4 linked regions of the Homo sapiens genome follow. The protein of the gene in region 3 interacts with the protein of the main gene of each other region in a pairwise test. Each region holds a gene or a part of one and is shown on either strand. Other genes may lie near its edges.

What was found.
Region 1: the proteins of TEPSIN (region 3) and HSF2BP interact in binary tests that used the Homo sapiens proteins (3 or more experiments, as listed by UniProt).
Region 2: the proteins of TEPSIN (region 3) and FKBP6 interact in binary tests that used the Homo sapiens proteins (3 or more experiments, as listed by UniProt).
Region 4: the proteins of TEPSIN (region 3) and TRIM50 interact in binary tests that used the Homo sapiens proteins (3 or more experiments, as listed by UniProt).

The regions. Positions count from the first base shown.
Region 1 is NC_000021.9:43,652,824-43,656,491, reverse strand, and holds part of HSF2BP (heat shock factor 2-binding protein), read left to right. Parts: intron 1-3,668. UniProt on the Homo sapiens protein: Meiotic recombination factor component of recombination bridges involved in meiotic double-strand break repair.
Region 2 is NC_000007.14:73,331,158-73,334,825, forward strand, and holds part of FKBP6 (inactive peptidyl-prolyl cis-trans isomerase FKBP6), read left to right. Parts: intron 1-499; coding exon 500-619; intron 620-3,668. UniProt on the Homo sapiens protein: Has an essential role in spermatogenesis. It is required to repress transposable elements and prevent their mobilization, which is essential for the germline integrity.
Region 3 is NC_000017.11:81,232,122-81,236,361, reverse strand, and holds part of TEPSIN (AP-4 complex accessory subunit tepsin), read left to right. Parts: intron 1-1,078; exon of another isoform or gene 1,079-2,313; coding exon 2,314-2,381; exon of another isoform or gene 2,382-2,423; intron 2,424-2,645; coding exon 2,646-2,724; intron 2,725-2,760; exon of another isoform or gene 2,761-2,858; coding exon 2,859-2,930; intron 2,931-3,843; coding exon 3,844-4,047; intron 4,048-4,152; exon of another isoform or gene 4,153-4,240. UniProt on the Homo sapiens protein: Associates with the adapter-like complex 4 (AP-4) and may therefore play a role in vesicular trafficking of proteins at the trans-Golgi network.
Region 4 is NC_000007.14:73,325,118-73,329,502, reverse strand, and holds the start of TRIM50 (E3 ubiquitin-protein ligase TRIM50), read left to right. Parts: upstream 1-1,420; 5' UTR 1,421-1,603; intron 1,604-3,927; exon of another isoform or gene 3,928-4,038; intron 4,039-4,385. Other genes in the region: inactive peptidyl-prolyl cis-trans isomerase FKBP6, read right to left, coding at 54-143, 811-928, 1,018-1,074. UniProt on the Homo sapiens protein: E3 ubiquitin-protein ligase that ubiquitinates Beclin-1/BECN1 in a 'Lys-63'-dependent manner enhancing its binding to ULK1. In turn, promotes starvation-induced autophagy activation.

The sequences.
Region 1 (3,668 bases), on a different chromosome or scaffold from region 3:
CTTACAGTCCTTGTGATGATATTTGGGAGAGTCTGATGACCTAAGAAAGGGAGGTTTCCTCAGTGTAGTGACTTGGACATATGTAAGTTGGTATAAGTTGGTTGCCAGTTTTCTGAGCATCTATTAACAGCTTCTCTTTCTCTCTCTCTTCATTGGCAGAAGAATTTTATACTTTTGATAACTGAAAAGCTCTATTCTGAAAATTAAGTACTTACTGTGTAAGTTAAGGATCTTGCCAAATGGAAACCTTGCATGGAGTTTACTTGTCAGTAGAGATAGCTGGAAGTGTGTTCACTTATCTTTAGGTGGATGGGTGAGCCAGTATCTAGAACTGATTGAAGTTTAGGCTTTCTGGTGTCCATTCAGACTTTTGAGATTTGAGCTGAGCTGTTATGTTGAATACCAGTTTAGGAGCCTATTGAAGTTCCTGGACATACTCTGAGATTGTCTCAGCACTTGCTTGATTGAGGCCAAATCATGATTAAATCAGCCTTTGACGGTAAAGGCCAATTTACTGCATGACATTTGGTTGTTATCCCTCCCTGTGTGCCCTCTAGAAAAGGTGCATCCAGGGGGCCCAGGTAGCTGTAGCACTTGTCCAGACAAGAAGATAGCTCACCCCGAGAATATGAGTTTCTGGCATGTGCAAACGTATCTGGTCAGTGGGCCAGCCACATCCAGTTAGAAGGGACAGTTCTCATCCACCGTACCTTGTCCTGTTTATATTCTCTCCGAAGTCCTTGGATCCAGTCTTCTCTGCCCTGTGGTGTGCTCTGGGAGGTAGATCCCTACAGATGGGGCTCTCCTGGTTCCCTTGCTGGCTGCCAGTGGGGCTCACCAATGGAAGGCATTGCTGGGTGGAGAGAGAGGTTGGGGTGTTTCTTCCTGCTCCCTCCCTGCTTTGCTGCTGTTTTGTGGCAGTAGCTGCATCCCTCCACAACAGAGACTCCTGTCTAGAGGCCTCTTCCGTAGTCCTAGCTCTTGCTGGACTGCCCCTGCTCCTGTGGCTGTAGGGCTGTTGCTAGTCCCTGGGTACCTCGCTGTCCCTTGGTGGTTCTGTTATCTCTGCTCTCCCCTCTGTAAGTGGTCCCTTCAGAAAAGTCTCAACATCTGGGTTGATTTCTCTTTCCCACTGGGACTCTGCCAGATACATGGCGTGTCATTGGTTGCCAGAATGCCAGGTCATTGACTTCTAATTTCTCTAGTTTTGATTTCATGCTCATCCAGCAACTTTCTGAGATTAGTCATTCCTTGTGCATTTATCTTCAGGAAAGGAAGGTAAATAGGCATACACCAGTAGCAGCGTATGGCAGCCTGCTGGTTGGTTATATTCTCACTGTAAATTAATAAACTGGCATTCTAAAAAATACATCAGGGTCTCATGAGTTAGTTAACATGAGTGTCTTTAGTGATCAGTCCCGCTGCCAAAATCAAACCGAGTGAGGGCCACAAACAAATCTGTGGTCACTTGATCACAGTCTGCCTTTGGGAGATCTTATCTCATAGTCCCGGCCTTTCCCAGGCTATAGAGTCACCTTTTTCCCCATAGTCTCTCTGGCAATTCCTGCTTATTCCCCTTTGCTGAAATTTATCCTTCTCTGCTTTGCAGCCTTCCAATAGGGCTTGAGACTCAGGCCTAGGCCCCGCTCATTGCCTCACCCCATGGCTTCTCCCTAGGCAGTCTCATGCACACTCACAGCTTCAGTTACCGTCTTGATGCCAGTGGCTGCTGGATTTACTCTCTAGCCCAGAACTCTCCAAGCTCACGGCCTTGTGCCTGACTCCGACTTGGCATTTCTTCCTGCTTGTTTCATGATTATTTCAAATTCTAAATGTCTGCCCTAGCCTAATCAGTCTAAGGTCGCCAGGAACAGACCCACAGTCTGACAGAGTGAGGTTTATGGCTCTTTGCAGTGAGGAAGACCATACCAGAACACCGAGAAACTGTGGGGCATGTCAACAAAAAAGAGGATAGAGTTGTTGTAGGACTTGGAGACAGAGTGGTATTAGGTGAAGCATAAATGAAGCAAAATAGAACTGTGTCTAAAGGGACCAATATTAAGTCTGACTGCGAAGCGGACCCAGGTCCCGTTTCCTTGAAAACTACAACGTTCAAATAGACGTGGAACATTGTTCTAGAAATCCCTTACTTGAAGCTCTGCAGTAGCTGGAAATAGGGTTCTTTTCTGTGTCACAGTGACTTAGATCCTGCAGGCAAGAGTGGGATCTTCTTACTTGTATAATTTCAAAGAACAAAATTTGTGCGAGTCTGGGATTTTACAGAATAAGGCTTCTCAGTGAATAAGAAGTTAGCAGTCACTCAAAGAAGAGGTCATTATGACACTTTACAGTTGCATTGTCTTTGAGAGATATTTTCTGTTAACTTGGCACCTGACTTTATCTGTGTTTGTTATTCCAGCCTGACAGAAGTCAGGACAGACTTTTGCTTTCTCGGTGCAAGCTGATTTTTACTTCCTGTTGTCATATCTGCCTCATGCTATCTGTTCCCTGCCCCTGTCTTACACTGGCCTGCCTCAGTCTCCCCAGAGCACCAACACCCAGACTAGAGACCCAGGAGTCTTCCTTGTTACCTGTCTCTCTTCCTCACTACTCCGCATGAAACCTGTCCGCTAGTAAGTCTTGTGAGTGTTACTTCATGGATGCATCCTGAATCATCAGCCTGCGTCTGTCTCCACTGCTGTGTTCTGCCTCCTCCTGGCGGTCTCCTCACTGCCACTCTCCAGTCCCTCAGACACACTGTAGCCTGAGTAGTTTGTGGCAGTTCAATCTGATGATGCCATTCACCTGCGTAAGTCTTCAGACGCTTCTCTTTGTTTTTAGGATAAAGAGCAAAAACCTAAAAACCCCACCCAGACTCATTATCATCCAAAAACCTAAGCAAAACCATACTACGGCTTAAAAGGCTTTATATTATTGGGCACAGCCCCGGCTCAGAGTCACTGCCTAATCTGACTACCTCGACATGATCAATCTTCCTTTGAAATGTTGTCATGGTACCCTATGCTTCCTTCAGACACATGGTTTTATTTCCATTTTACTTTATAAGCTGTTGGGAGTGCAGGGCCCCTGATTTTATCTGTCATTATCTCGGCCCCTGATTTTGTCTGTCATTATCTCCCTGGCTGATTATTCGGTCTTGAGGGAGCACCCTACTGTCTCTGCATGCCCTTCTTTCTTTCTCTCTCTCTCTTCCTTCCTTCTCCCTTCCCTTCCCTCCCCTCCCCTCCCCTTCCCTTCCCCTTCCCTTCCCTTCCCCTTCCCTTCCCTTCCCCTTCCCTTCCTTTCCCTTTTCTCTCTCTCTCTCTCTCTGTGTCTCTCTTTCTCTCTTTCTTCCGAGTCTCACTCTGTTGCCCAGGCTTGAGTGCAGTGGCATGATCTCAGCTCACTGCAACCCTGCAACCTCTGCCCCCTGGGTTCAAGCGATTCTCTTGCCTCAGTCTCCCGAGTAGCTGGGATTACAGGTGTGTGCCACCACGCCAGCTAATTTTTGTATTTTTAGTTAGAGACCAGGTTTCACCACGTTGGCCAGACTAGTCTTGAACTCCTGACCTCAGGTGATCTGCCCGCCTCGGCCTCCCAAAGCACTGGATTACAGTTATGAGCCACTGCGCCTGGCCTGATGCCCTTCTTTCTAGTTTGCAGTCCTA
Region 2 (3,668 bases), on a different chromosome or scaffold from region 3:
TGACTCTGAAGATGGCCAGGGCAGAGCATCATGACCATAAAGACTGCCAGGGCCCTGAGCAAACCAAGACCTGTTCAGTGCTTGGTGGCCAAATAGTGGTTTTGAGCACTGACTTCTGTGCTTGGCAAGTTCCGTCAGTTTTTGATTCCATGGGACACTGCTTCCTCAGAGAACATCAGGGGAAGACTGAAGACGTAGACTTCCTTCTGGCTCTAGGGTGTAAAATGGGACAGGTTATAACACTGGTGTGGCTTCTGTCAGATTCAGAGGTGACTCCAACACAGAAGGCTGTAAACAGAAGTGCATGATCTGAAAAAGAAGAGCTCACAGCTGTAGTAACACTTCCTTTCTTTCAATTACTATTTTTTTAAATGGAGACATGTTCTCACTATGTTGCCCAGGCTGGTCTCGAACTCCTGGGCTCACGTGTACTAACACTTCCATTGTGGCATTACTGCTTTTGGTTTCCTTGCTGAATATTCCTGTCTCTGGTCCTCAGGAGCAGCAAGACCAATTTCCACTTCAGAAGGTCCTGAAAGTGGCAGCTACGGAACGGGAGTTTGGCAACTACCTTTTCCGCCAGAATCGTTTCTATGATGCCAAAGTGAGATATAAAAGGGTGAGAATGCTTTGAAAGTTAAGTGTAAGTTTAGATCCTGAAAACTTCCTTGTTTAAAAAACACAGATTTTGTTTTGTTGTGATTTTTGTTTTGTTTTGTTTTTGAGACAAGAGTGTCGCTCTGTCGCCCAGGCTGGAGTGCAGTGGCGCAATCTCAGCTCACTGCAAGCTCCGCCTCCTGGGTTCACGCCATTCTCCTGCCTCAGCCTTCCAAGTAGCTGGGACTACAGGCACCCGCCACTTCACCTGGCTAATTTTTTTGTATTTTTAGTAGAGACAGAGTTTCACCGTGTTAGCCAGGATGGTCTCAATGTCCTGACCTCGTGATCTGCCCACCTCGGCCTCCCAAAGTGCTGGGATTACAGGTGTGAGCTACCGCGCCCGGCAAAAAACACAGATTTTTGTCTTTCTCCCTACTTTCTATGAGCAGCCATTAAGAAAAATCTCATTTAAAAAAATCCTCATGCCAGGCCAAGGCAGGTGGATCACCTGAGGTCAGGAGTTTGAGACCAGCCTGGCCAACATGGTGAAACCCCGTCTCTACTAAAAATACAAAATTAGCCGGGCGTGGTGGTGGGTGCCTGTAATCCCAGCTACTTGGGAGGCTGAGGCAAGAGAATCACTTGAACCCAGGAGGTGGAGGTTGAGGTTGCAGTGAGCCGAGATTGTGCCGTTGCATTCCAGCCTGGGCAAGAAAGGCAAAAAAACTCCCATCTCAAAAAAAAAAAAAATCCTCATGCCAAAGGGATAAGTACTGGAGAGGGGACTAACGGGGGGATAAGGGCTGAAGAGGGGACTCTCGAGGGGATAAGGGCTGGAGAGAGGACTCACGGGATTGGGAGGCACCTGGGAATGTTCTGTGTTTTGACGTGGTTCTTGGGTACATGGGTGTGTTCAGGTTGTGAAAAACATTTGCCTCTGTATATGTACTTGAACTAGAAGTGTTTAGAATTTCCATCTCACTGCTCTAAAACAATTCAGTTTATTAACTTTTAAAAATTCTCATCCCAGTGCTTATTAGGTCCTCCACCAACCGATTTCTCCACCCCTTTGCCATCATCATTTCATGTCTCTGACAGTGGAGGCTCATTTGGCGATTCTAGCCTGAGGCAATTGCAGCCTCATCAAGCCTCCTGTTGTGATTTTGCTTCTTGTGTAGGTTATGCTGAGCTGTTTTCTGTTTCCTTTTTAATTTTATTCATTCAACAAACATGGCTGGACGCAGTGGCTCATGCCTGTAATCCCAGCACTTTGGGAGGCTGAGGCGAGTGGATAGCTTGAGGTCAGGAGTTTGAGACCAGCCTGGGCAACGTGGCGAAACCCCGTCTCTACTAAAAATACAAAAATTTGCTGGCATGGTGGTGGGTGCCTGTAATCCCAGCTACTTGGGAGGCTGAAGCAGGAGAATCACTTGAACCCAGGAGGCGGAGGTTGCAATGAGCCAAGATCGCACCACTGCACTCCAGCCTGGGCAACAGGGCAAGATTCTGTCTCCAAAAAAAAAAAAAACAAAACACCACACATGCGTGTGCTGTCTCTGGAACATACTCATATAGGCCAAATGTTGCCGACCCTGTCACCCAATATCTATTCCCCCTTCTCCTAACAGAACCTCCCATTTCACTCAAAGCATCAGTGTACTAATTAAAAAACTACATCTTCCCAGCTTCCCATGAGCTTAGGGTGTCCCTGTAACAAGGGTCTAGCCAAGGAGACATAAAGGGAAACCTCTGGAGGGTCTTCCAGAAAGCTCTTAACATAACACAAGCACCAGACTCTTCTCCCCTCCCTCCTTCCCACCCAGGTGACCCCGCAATGCGTGGCCAGGGGAGAATCTCCCTGGGGCCCGCCACACAGCTCTTGTCCTGGGGCTGCCCTATAATGCTAGTTTGTGGATTTCCTGTTTTTTTCTCAACTTACTCCTTTGTTTTAACAGAGTATGTTGATGTATGTCTAAAATATTCTTGGTTTTTAAATACATATTTGTCTAGAGTTGTTATTAAAAAGTCTTTTGGCTGGGCACGGTGGCTCATGCCTGTAATCCCAGCACTTTGGGAGGCCGAGGCGGGTGGATCACCTGAGGTCAGGAGTTCAAGACCAGCCTGGCGAACATGGTGAAACCCCGTCTCTACTAAAAATACAAAAATTAGCTGGGCGTGTTGGTGGGTGCCCATAGTCCCAGCTACTTGGGAGGCTGAGGCAGGATAATTGCTTGAACCCGGGAGGTGGAGGTTGCAGTGAGCCAAGATGGCATAATTGCACTGCAGCCAGGGGAATAAGAGTGAAACTCCATCTCAAAAAAAAAGGTCTTGCTAGTTCTGAGCTCAAAGCTAACAACAACAACAAAAAAATCTTACTACTACTTAGGTTCTTTATTCCTTTCTACGTGACCTGTTTTTTCTTCTGTAGAGACGAAGATCGTTTTTCCCCGGCATTCCTAAATTTTACGGTGATGTGCCTCTGCGTGTGTGTATCTTTTCATTCAGGAAACTTTTCCTCCACTCTGGGAAACTTTCTTGAGTTATTTCTTTGATAATTTACTCTTGTTCCCTCTGCCCTCTTTGTCTGGAACTCCTATTATCAGACCTCCTGCACTGAGCTTCTGGCTGCTGTCCCTCCCCCCTCCCCACCTAGTTTCCATCTTTTCTCCTGTTTGTGTCATGTATGGAAGCTTTCCTTGACTTTTTGCCACCTCTTCTGATGAATTTTTCATTTAAAACTGGGGGGCCAGGCACAGTGACTCACACCTATAATCCCAGCACTTCAGGAGTCCAAGGTGGGAGGATTGCTTGAAGCCAGGAGTTAAAGATCAGTCTGGGCACCATAGCAAGATCCCATCTCTACAAAAAATAAATTTTAGAAAATTGAAGGGCTATTTGTTCTTCCCCTCCCTAGCATTCTGTTCTTGTTTCATGTGTATATTATTTTATATATTTAGACTGTCGATTATAATTTAATCTCATTCTTTTTCTGTTTGGTTTTTCTACATATTGGGGACTGTGTCCTTTTGCACTAAGTTTGTCAATGACCTAAAGATGGTTTATTTCTC
Region 3 (4,240 bases):
TCCATCCCAGTGCCCACACATAGCAGACTCAGTGCCTGTTCACACATCCTTCCCAGGCTGTGGGTTCCCCTTCTGGGGCTGCTCCTCGGAGCCCAAGACAGAGTGAGGCCATGGGAGGGCGGAGCTGGGAGGCAGGAGAGGCGGGGCCCCGGCCAGTCGGTCTGTCCAGGCAGAAGATGGGTCTGGGGGAGCTGTCCCCGCAGGCTTGGGGGCAGTCCCATGTGCCTCTGCCTAATGAGGACTTGTGGGGGCTTGGCCTGAGATCTTCCATGGGGTGGAGGGAGGCCTGGCTCCAGGTGGTCACTGGGCGCACCATGTCTGGACCCCACCCCAGCCCCTGAGTGGGGAATTCTGGGGAGGGAGACTGAGTCTGTCTCGTGCCACTGCTTGCTTGTGGAGACCTCAGGGTGTACCATCCACTGGGCTCACCCCAAAACCGGTGTCGAAACCAGTGTTGTCCCACTTTATGGCAAGTGGGCATGCAGCTCTAGGTGTTCCGCAGGGGCCAGTGCCCTGGGCCGCCATAGACAGTTGTGACACATGACTTAGGCAGTAGATGCCCCTGAGGGGACGGCAGTGCGGGGGTGCTCTCGCCATCCTCACAGAGCTCCTCACAGCTTTGGGGCCAAGGCAGCACCAGCCATTTATCCTCACCATTCAGCGGGCCAGAGGGCCCCGGGCTCCAGGCCACTCCCGTGGCTGTGGTTGGTGCATGTACGTCGTGGCCTCAGTGGTCTCGGGGACACGCCCTGGGGTGGGGGCTGCAGCAGGTAGGGGGATGGGGCACAGCAGGACCTGAGGATGGGAAAGGCTCTTCTTCAGACCCTGGGTTCTTGTCGGCACCAGAGTCTCTCCTGTGCAGAGGCAGCTATGGATGATGGCTGTTGCCTGCCGTGCCTGGACACTGGCCCTGGGTGACACACAGGCTGTGGGAGGTGTCAGGACAGGCCCTGTGAGGAAAGTGGGTGCCAGATGCCACACGTGAGAGACGGGGCGCCCTGCTCCAGGTGGTGGGTGTGCAGTGAGGATGGCCTGCCCCACGCGCGCAGAGCGTCAGAAAGAGGAAAGAAAACGCAGCTGGCAGTTACAGACAGATTTTCTTTAGTTAAAACCTGAGAGGCACCCCCAGCCGATTGCGGTCAGGAGCACTTTATCTTACAGACTGAATGTTGGTTTTAGGATGAGAGGGCTTATCAGAAGCTCGGAATGTTTATGTGTGTGGAGAAGTTTATGGCAGGGTTGGAAGGAGGGAAGGTTATCTTGGGGCAGGCATCTTTTCAGCCTGGAGGTGGGTTTTCTCGAAGCTGGCATCTTCCCGGCTGGAGAAGGGTTATCTTGGGGCTAGCATGTCTCTGGTTGGGGAGGAGTTTGGAATGTTTCTGGTTGGAGATGTTATTTGTGGTTCATGGTCGTGCTGACCTTAGCCATTAGGCTGATGCCCTATGGATTTAGGCAGTTTTTGGTTAAGGTGAACTTTAGAATGAGGGGCTTGTCCAAGATGGTGATGCTCCTGCTCTGTCACAGAGCAGGGGCAGCGTGGGGTGGCAGGTGGGTGCCCTGGGCTCCTGCAGGGAAGATGGCAGCCTCAGGGTGTCAGTTCATCCAGCCATTGACTCAGCTTGTGGCCGCCAGCCCTGGGCCCAGGGACAGCCAGGAGCATCGTCTCCGAATCACGGGACCAGCCTGCCAGGGTGGAGGTAGACGGCCGAGGGGCGTGAGTGGATTCGCCTGTGACAGAGGCTCTCGAGGGGTTCTCAGAGGCACAGCTCTCAGCCTGAGCCCTGAAAGGATGCCGCGGCCCCAGGTGTAGGCTTGGGGGGCCCTGGGGCCGGAAGATTTAAGGAAAGAAGCCCCAGTTCATCATGACAGGAACTCTCAGAGCAGGGGAGCTCGAGGCGGCTGAGACTGGGGTTGGGTGGGGCTAGGTGGAGCTTTCAGGCTGTGATAAGAACGCTGGTTTCTCCCTCCAGGCCCCGGAAGCCTCTGAGGGGTCCCTGGTGCACCTGGGGCAGGGAGAGTGGGCTTCGGGGAGGCCACACCCGCTCAGGCACCAGGGGTTGCCGACCCTGGGGGAGACGAGGTGGTTGCTGTGGAGAGAGTCTCGCCTCTGTGGGGCATGGGTGAGGGGGAGCTGAGGGTCTGCTCAGGTGTGGCCTCTGCAGGGTCCTGGAGGAGGGCATCCCATTGGCTGTGACAGAAGGGCCTTGGTGGCAGGAACTTGCCACCCTGGAGTGGGCCCAGGGCACCGTGCTCCACAGGGAGCAGCGGTGCCAGGCTCAGCCCTGCCCCCGACTTGCCTTTTCTGTTCTGCAGCTTTTGCAGGGCCCCCAGATCCTCTGCACGGGAACAGCTTGTACCAGAAGGTTCGCGCGGCCGCGCAGGTGAGCCCAGGAGCAGTGTCGCTCTGCGGGGTGCCCCTCCTCCTGTAGAGGGGTGGGATTGGGGCCAGGATGTCAGCTGGGGGGTTTGCAGTTCTCCCATCCGGGACCCCTGCCTCTGCTCCTTGCTGGTGGACACAGAGCCTGTGTCCAGCTGAGTGGCTCAGGAGAAGTGTCCGGGGGACAGAACGGAGCTGATATGGGTGGCAGGGTGAGTACAGCAGGCCCTGGTGTGAGGACACTGAGGGCCTTCGCCTCCCCCTGTAGGACTTGGGGAGCACCCTGTTCTCGGACACCGTGTTGCCGCTGGCTCCCTCCCAGCCTCTGGGGACCCCGCCTGCCACAGGTAGGTGACTGAGGGGACCGTGTCCAGCTCTGGCACCTGGTTTCTGCCTCCTTGAGTGTCCTGGGTGTCTGTGCCATCCGTGGGCAGGGCCGAGGGTGGGGGCCGGCTTGCTGCTAACGGAGGACCCTCTGCAGGCATGGGCTCCCAGGCCAGGCCGCACAGCACCCTCCAGGGTTTCGGCTACAGCAAGGAACACGGCCGCACGGGTGAGTGGGGAGGGCCTGCATGGGCTCTGGCATCTCAGGGTGTGGGGATGAGGAGGTGGTGGGGGCCGGACCATGCCGCCCCATCTAGTAGCTGCTGTCCCCCGTCCCCTCCCCTACATGGCCTCAACCCTTCCTGGGGCTGTCCCCACTGTCTCTCTCTGGCTGCTGACGTGGGGGTGGGGCAGGTGTGGCCAGGGCTGCTTTATGGACAGATGAGAGAAACCAGGCCGAGCAAGAAGTCAGGGCTGGGCCCCGTGGCAGGGGTGAGTCCCACTCTGAGAGGGGCCGAGGGCTGTGCCCCTGGCTGTGGTGCAGGTGACTCAGGCAGTCCCGTGTGGAGCTGTTATGAGGTGGGGCAGTACCAGTGGACAACTGCTCACCAGCGCCAGGAGAGCCACAGGTGGCACCACTGCCTGCGGCTGGGACCCAGCCCCCAGCCCAGCTGTGCCCTGCTGCCGGGCCCTGGGCGGTGTGTAGCTGCTCACCGTTAGGCTGTGTCACGCCGTCCTGCGCACAGCCTGGGGCTCCTGCCGACACTTTGGTGTCGGGGCAGCTTCTACAGGGAACTCACACAGGAAAGGCCGGCCCCTCCCCGAGCCCTGGACACACCCTCCCTGAGCCAAGGCCAAGCCCAAGCCCCTTAGGACACCTTCACCCCCAGAGGACAGAGGGACGGAGGCATAACTCTGCAGTGAGCTTTGGTGTCCAGGCCCACTGGGAGTGGGAATGCCAAAGCGGAGTCCACTGGGAGCTTCCAGAGGGCCTGGGGCCCACCAGGAGGCCTCCCTACCTGCAGCATGTACCCCGACCTCTCCAAGCTTGAGCAGGGAGCCGATGCGGGCACCCTGCTCCCAGAGAACGCGGGTGGGGGCCGCACTGGGCGGCCGTCCCATCTCCCTCTCCTCGGGTACAGGCTCGGCAGGCGAAGCCTTCCTCTCCACCATCCAGAAGGCCGCAGAGGTGGTGGCCAGCGCCATGCGCCCCGGGCCCGAGAGTCCCAGTACCCGGAGGCTCCTGCCGCGGGGTGACACCTACCAGCCTGCCATGATGCCTTCAGCCAGCCACGGTCCCCCAACCCTGGGGAACCTACTCCCCGGGGCCATTCCAGGTCCCCGAGGTATCGAGGCGAGGGCTCCTCCCCTTGGGGTCTGGGTCACTCCTTCCTGTCACCGCTGGGGCTTTGCGGCCACGGAGGCAAATCCCAGGGCCTCCCACACAGCAGGAGGGGTGGGACCCGCGGCGGAAGCACATGCCCATGGGGCTGGTGTTTGCTGAAGCTGGAGCCAAGGTGGCCACCCATCCTCAGCTCA
Region 4 (4,385 bases), on a different chromosome or scaffold from region 3:
CTCATCTAGCCCCTAAACAATTCCTTCTTCTCCAGCTCCCACTCTGAACCTACCCTCTCCAAGTTTCATTAGCCGAGGAGTTTTCCTAAAGTAATTAGAATCGAAGGGTCTGTCCATGTGTTCCAGGTATCCCGAGTATTTCACTAGGATAGAAGAAAGAATGTAAGGAAAATGGACCAAAAACACCCACGCCACCATAATATCGAGTCTCTCATGATCACACAGAAACAATGTGAACAGATGAGCTTAAGCTGCCCGACACCCCGAGGTACAGGAATAAATCTTCTCTCTGCATTTTGGGTGCCGGCCCTTTGGCTCAGAGGTTCAAGAGCTTTGCGGAAGCATCACACAAAGGGGACATAGGAGTCCCTAGCTTTCGTCTTAAAAAAACTAATTCAGGCCGGAAGCAGCGGCTCATGCTTGTAATCCCAGCTACTGGGGAGGCTGAGGTGGGAGGCTCACTTGGGTCCAGGAGTCTGAGACCAGCCTGGGCAACATAGAGTCCCCCATATCTACAAAAATATTAAAAATTAGCCGGGCATGGTGGATCGCGCCTGTAAATCCCTTATTTGGGAGGCTGAGGCAGGAGAATCACGAGCCCAGGAGGTGGAGGCTGCAGTGAGCTATGATCGCACCACTGCACTCCAGCCTGGGCAACTGAGCAAGACCCCGTTTCAAAAACAAAAAACAAAAATCCACTTCAAACAAAGCATTTCCAACCCCATTAAGTGCTTTTTGAAAATGAGGCCTCTCTCTTCCCAACAGAGTGCGATGACATGGATCCTGAGGACAAACCGCCCCAGGGCGTACCTAGCACCGAAGCATCAGGCGCCACTAGGTCTCCAGCTCCTTCTCGGATGACGTCCTTCAGCACGCCCCGGTCCCCCGAGATGTCCAGCATCCTCTGACTTAACCGCTCGTACAGGGACTGATGGAGAATGAAAGCCAGGCCTCAGAGCCGCAGACCCACCCGGCCACCCCTCAGCGTCTACGCCCCCGAAACGTCTGGGCCCTCACCTGGCCGGGGGCGTCGTCCCCTTCCAGGACTCCCTGGTTTAACGCGCTTCCCCCCATGTCCTAGCTGCCCTCCCTGTGGCGTGAGCCTTCGGCCTGGTGCGCCCCGCTGCCCTCCCTGGCTGTGACTCTGGTGGGGTTCCGAAGGCCCCTTTATGCCCGGCAGACCCCTACCGACGGCGGCATTCCATTCTGGGGCCACGAGGAGGCACTCATCGTTTCGTTCCAACCGCCGCCAACGGCCCTGGCCCTCGCGAGCTCTGGAACTACAGAGGCCACGCGGTGAGGTGCGAGGTATGATCCGTAATGGGAGCGCACGAAACATGATGGGACACGTAACGGGACCACGCAGGGCACGTTGGGTACGTGCAGGGGCGCGAGGTGGCGGCACGTAATGGGAGCGCGCAGAGCATGATGGGGCACGCGCGGTAGCGCGAGGCGGGGCATGTAACCATAGCGTGCGGGTCATGATGAGGCACGGACGTGGGGGGTTAGGTGGGGCACGTAATTGGAGCTCGCGGGGCAGGATGGGGCATCTAACTGGAGCGACAGAGAGCACGATGGGGCACTTACAGGGGCCGGAGGCTGGGTACGTAACGAGAGCGAGCGGGAAATGATGGGGCACCTAACGAGCACGCAGAGCATGATGGGGCACGGGTGCGAGGTGGGGCGCACAGTGGGAGCGCGTGGGGCATGATGAGACACATGGCGAGGCCATCAGGGCACAGGGGAAGCACTTTTGGAACACGTGAGTGACAGGGCTGCCGCCCTTGAAGGAGCCCTCGGAGTGGCTGCGTGGTGGGGCACGTGGGGCAGGTTCAGGAAAAAGGATGCAGCATGTGATTGCAGGGCAACCTGGTGAGGACACGAGAGCCACCTGCCACCAGCAGGGTTCAGGGCTCCCAGCTGTGGGTTACTTCCACCTTCTTTCACTTTCTCTCTTCCATTGTGTTCTAGAGAATTTAGGCCCAGACAAGACACTGATTGATTGATTGATTGATTGATTGACAGAGGCTCGTTCTGAGCCCAGGCTGGAGTTCAGTGATGGATCTCAGCTCACTGCAGCCGCCACTCCCTGGGCTCAAGAGATCCTCTTGCCTCAGCCTCCCGAGTAGCTGGGATTACAGAACTGCACCACCAGGCCCAGCTAATTTATTTTTTAGTTTTTAATTTGCTGGAAAGATGGTTTGTAGCTTTGTTGCTAGGCTGGTCTTGAACTCCTGGCTTCAAGTGATCCTCCAGTCTTGGCCTCCCAAAGTGCTGGGATTATAGGCGTAAGCTACAGCCAACTTTCAATACTGCCCCATTGGGGGTTAAGTTTCCAACACATGAAATTAGGAGGATACATTCAAACCACAGCAGTATATTATGACCATAATATTCATTAACTGTATAACAGGACAGGCGCGGTGGCTCACACCTGTAATCCCAGCACTTTGGGAGGCCAAAGCCGGTGGATCGCTCCAGGTCAGGAGTTTGAGACCAGCCTGCCCCACATGATGAAACCCCATCTCTACTAAAATTACAAAGAATTAGCCGGGCATGGTGGCAGGCGCCTGTAACCCCAGCTACTTGGGAGGCTGAGGCAGGAGAATCACTTGAACCCGGGAGGCGGAGGTTGCAATGAGCCAGATTGCGCCACTGCACTCCAGCCTGGGTAACAAGAGCAAAACTCTGTCTCAGAAAACAAACAAAACCTGTATAACAGAGTGTCATTGAATTTCTAAACGTTGAAAGACTTCACATTAAAAAAAAAACTCACAATTCAATATTATTGAGTGAAAGTAACCAGACACAAAAGAGTACATTCTATATGATGCTGTTTATGTGAAATTCAAAAACAGTCCACATGACAACATGGTAATAAGGACAGTGGCTGTCCTTGTTAGGAGTTATGACTGGGAGGAGGCAGGAGGGAGCTTTCTGGAATCACTCTACATCTTGTTCTTGAGAGTGGGTGTATATACATCAAGTGTTTATCAAGCTGTGTGGTTAAGATTTGCACACTTGTATATGTTATACCTTGATTTAAAAAATCTAAGTAAATAAGGATACCTTTGAATATCTTAAAAAAAAAAAAAAAAGAGGCCAGGCTTGGTGGCTCACACCTATAATCCCAGCACTTTGGGAGGCTGAGGTAGGAGGATTGCTTGAGGCCGGGAGTTCAAAACCAGCCCAGGCAACAAAGCGAGACCCCTGTCTCTACTAAAATAAATAAAACAATAAAATGAAAAAAAATAGAGAGATTGAATCATCATCTGCCAGTTTGTATTAGAAAAAAAGAGAGAGAGAGGGAAGGCTGGGTGCAGTAAGGCTCACGCCTGTAATCCCAGCACTTTGGGAGGCCAAGGTGGGAGGATTGCTTGAGCCCAGAAGTTGAAGACCAGCCTGGGCAACAAAGCAAGACCCGGTATCTAAAAAAATTTTTTAAATATTAGCTTGGCATGGTGGCATGCACCTGTAGTCCCAGCTACTCAGGCAGCTGAGGTAGGAGGATGGCTTGAGCCTAGGAGTTGGAGGCTACAGTGAGCTATGACCACGCCACTGCACTCCAGCCTGGGCAACAGAGCAACAAGCTGTCTTTCCCCACCCCCCAGCCCCCCCGCCCAAAAAAAGGAGAGTAAGAGCAAGAGTTTGAGATTCAGAAAGAACTGTTTCCCAGCACCTATCTGCTCCTGTTGGGGTCATGAGGTGTGGACGGTGTACCCAGTCCCTCTGTTTCTGCCCCTCCTCCACAGTGGCCAAGGCCAGCACCTGAATGTTATCAGAGCAGGCCCAACAAAGGCTGCCTCCCCAGTCCCGTGATGTAACCCAGTTTCCACCTGATTCTGGTGACCTTGGGGACACAGGGGTGTTGCTGGGAAAGGGGAGGAGAGAAGGGGCAGAGACCAGGCAGTGGTGCAGGCGTCCAGCTGCATTTCCCACTTCTGACTCTGTGCCTGCTGTTCCCTGCTGGGAAGAAGGAAAGCCAGTGATGCTGGCTTGAGGCTGTAGTGGGAGGCCCAGCGGATTGTGAGAAGCCAGGTATTCCAATGTCGGGCTCCCCCGGGGGCTGCTGGTGCTGCTTCTGTCTCATTGACAAGCTTTCATAGGGGAGCAGGTGGGAGATCAGGGTAGAGGCCTTGTAGGTTCCAGGCTCTCTAGAATTACCTGGGAGTGTCACCTATAAGTGTAGAGTTCTGGGTCTCACTGGAGACCCCCTGAAGAAGATCCTTTGAAGGTGGGCCTCTAGAATCTCTATTACACCTATGCTTTCAACAGTTTCCCGAAAGTTTGGGAACTGATCTAGAAGGTGGGGAGCTTGCCTAGGTTTTGCTGTTCAGTTCTAGGTCCGGATGCATGCTGGGGCTGGACCTTGCATTATTAGTGTC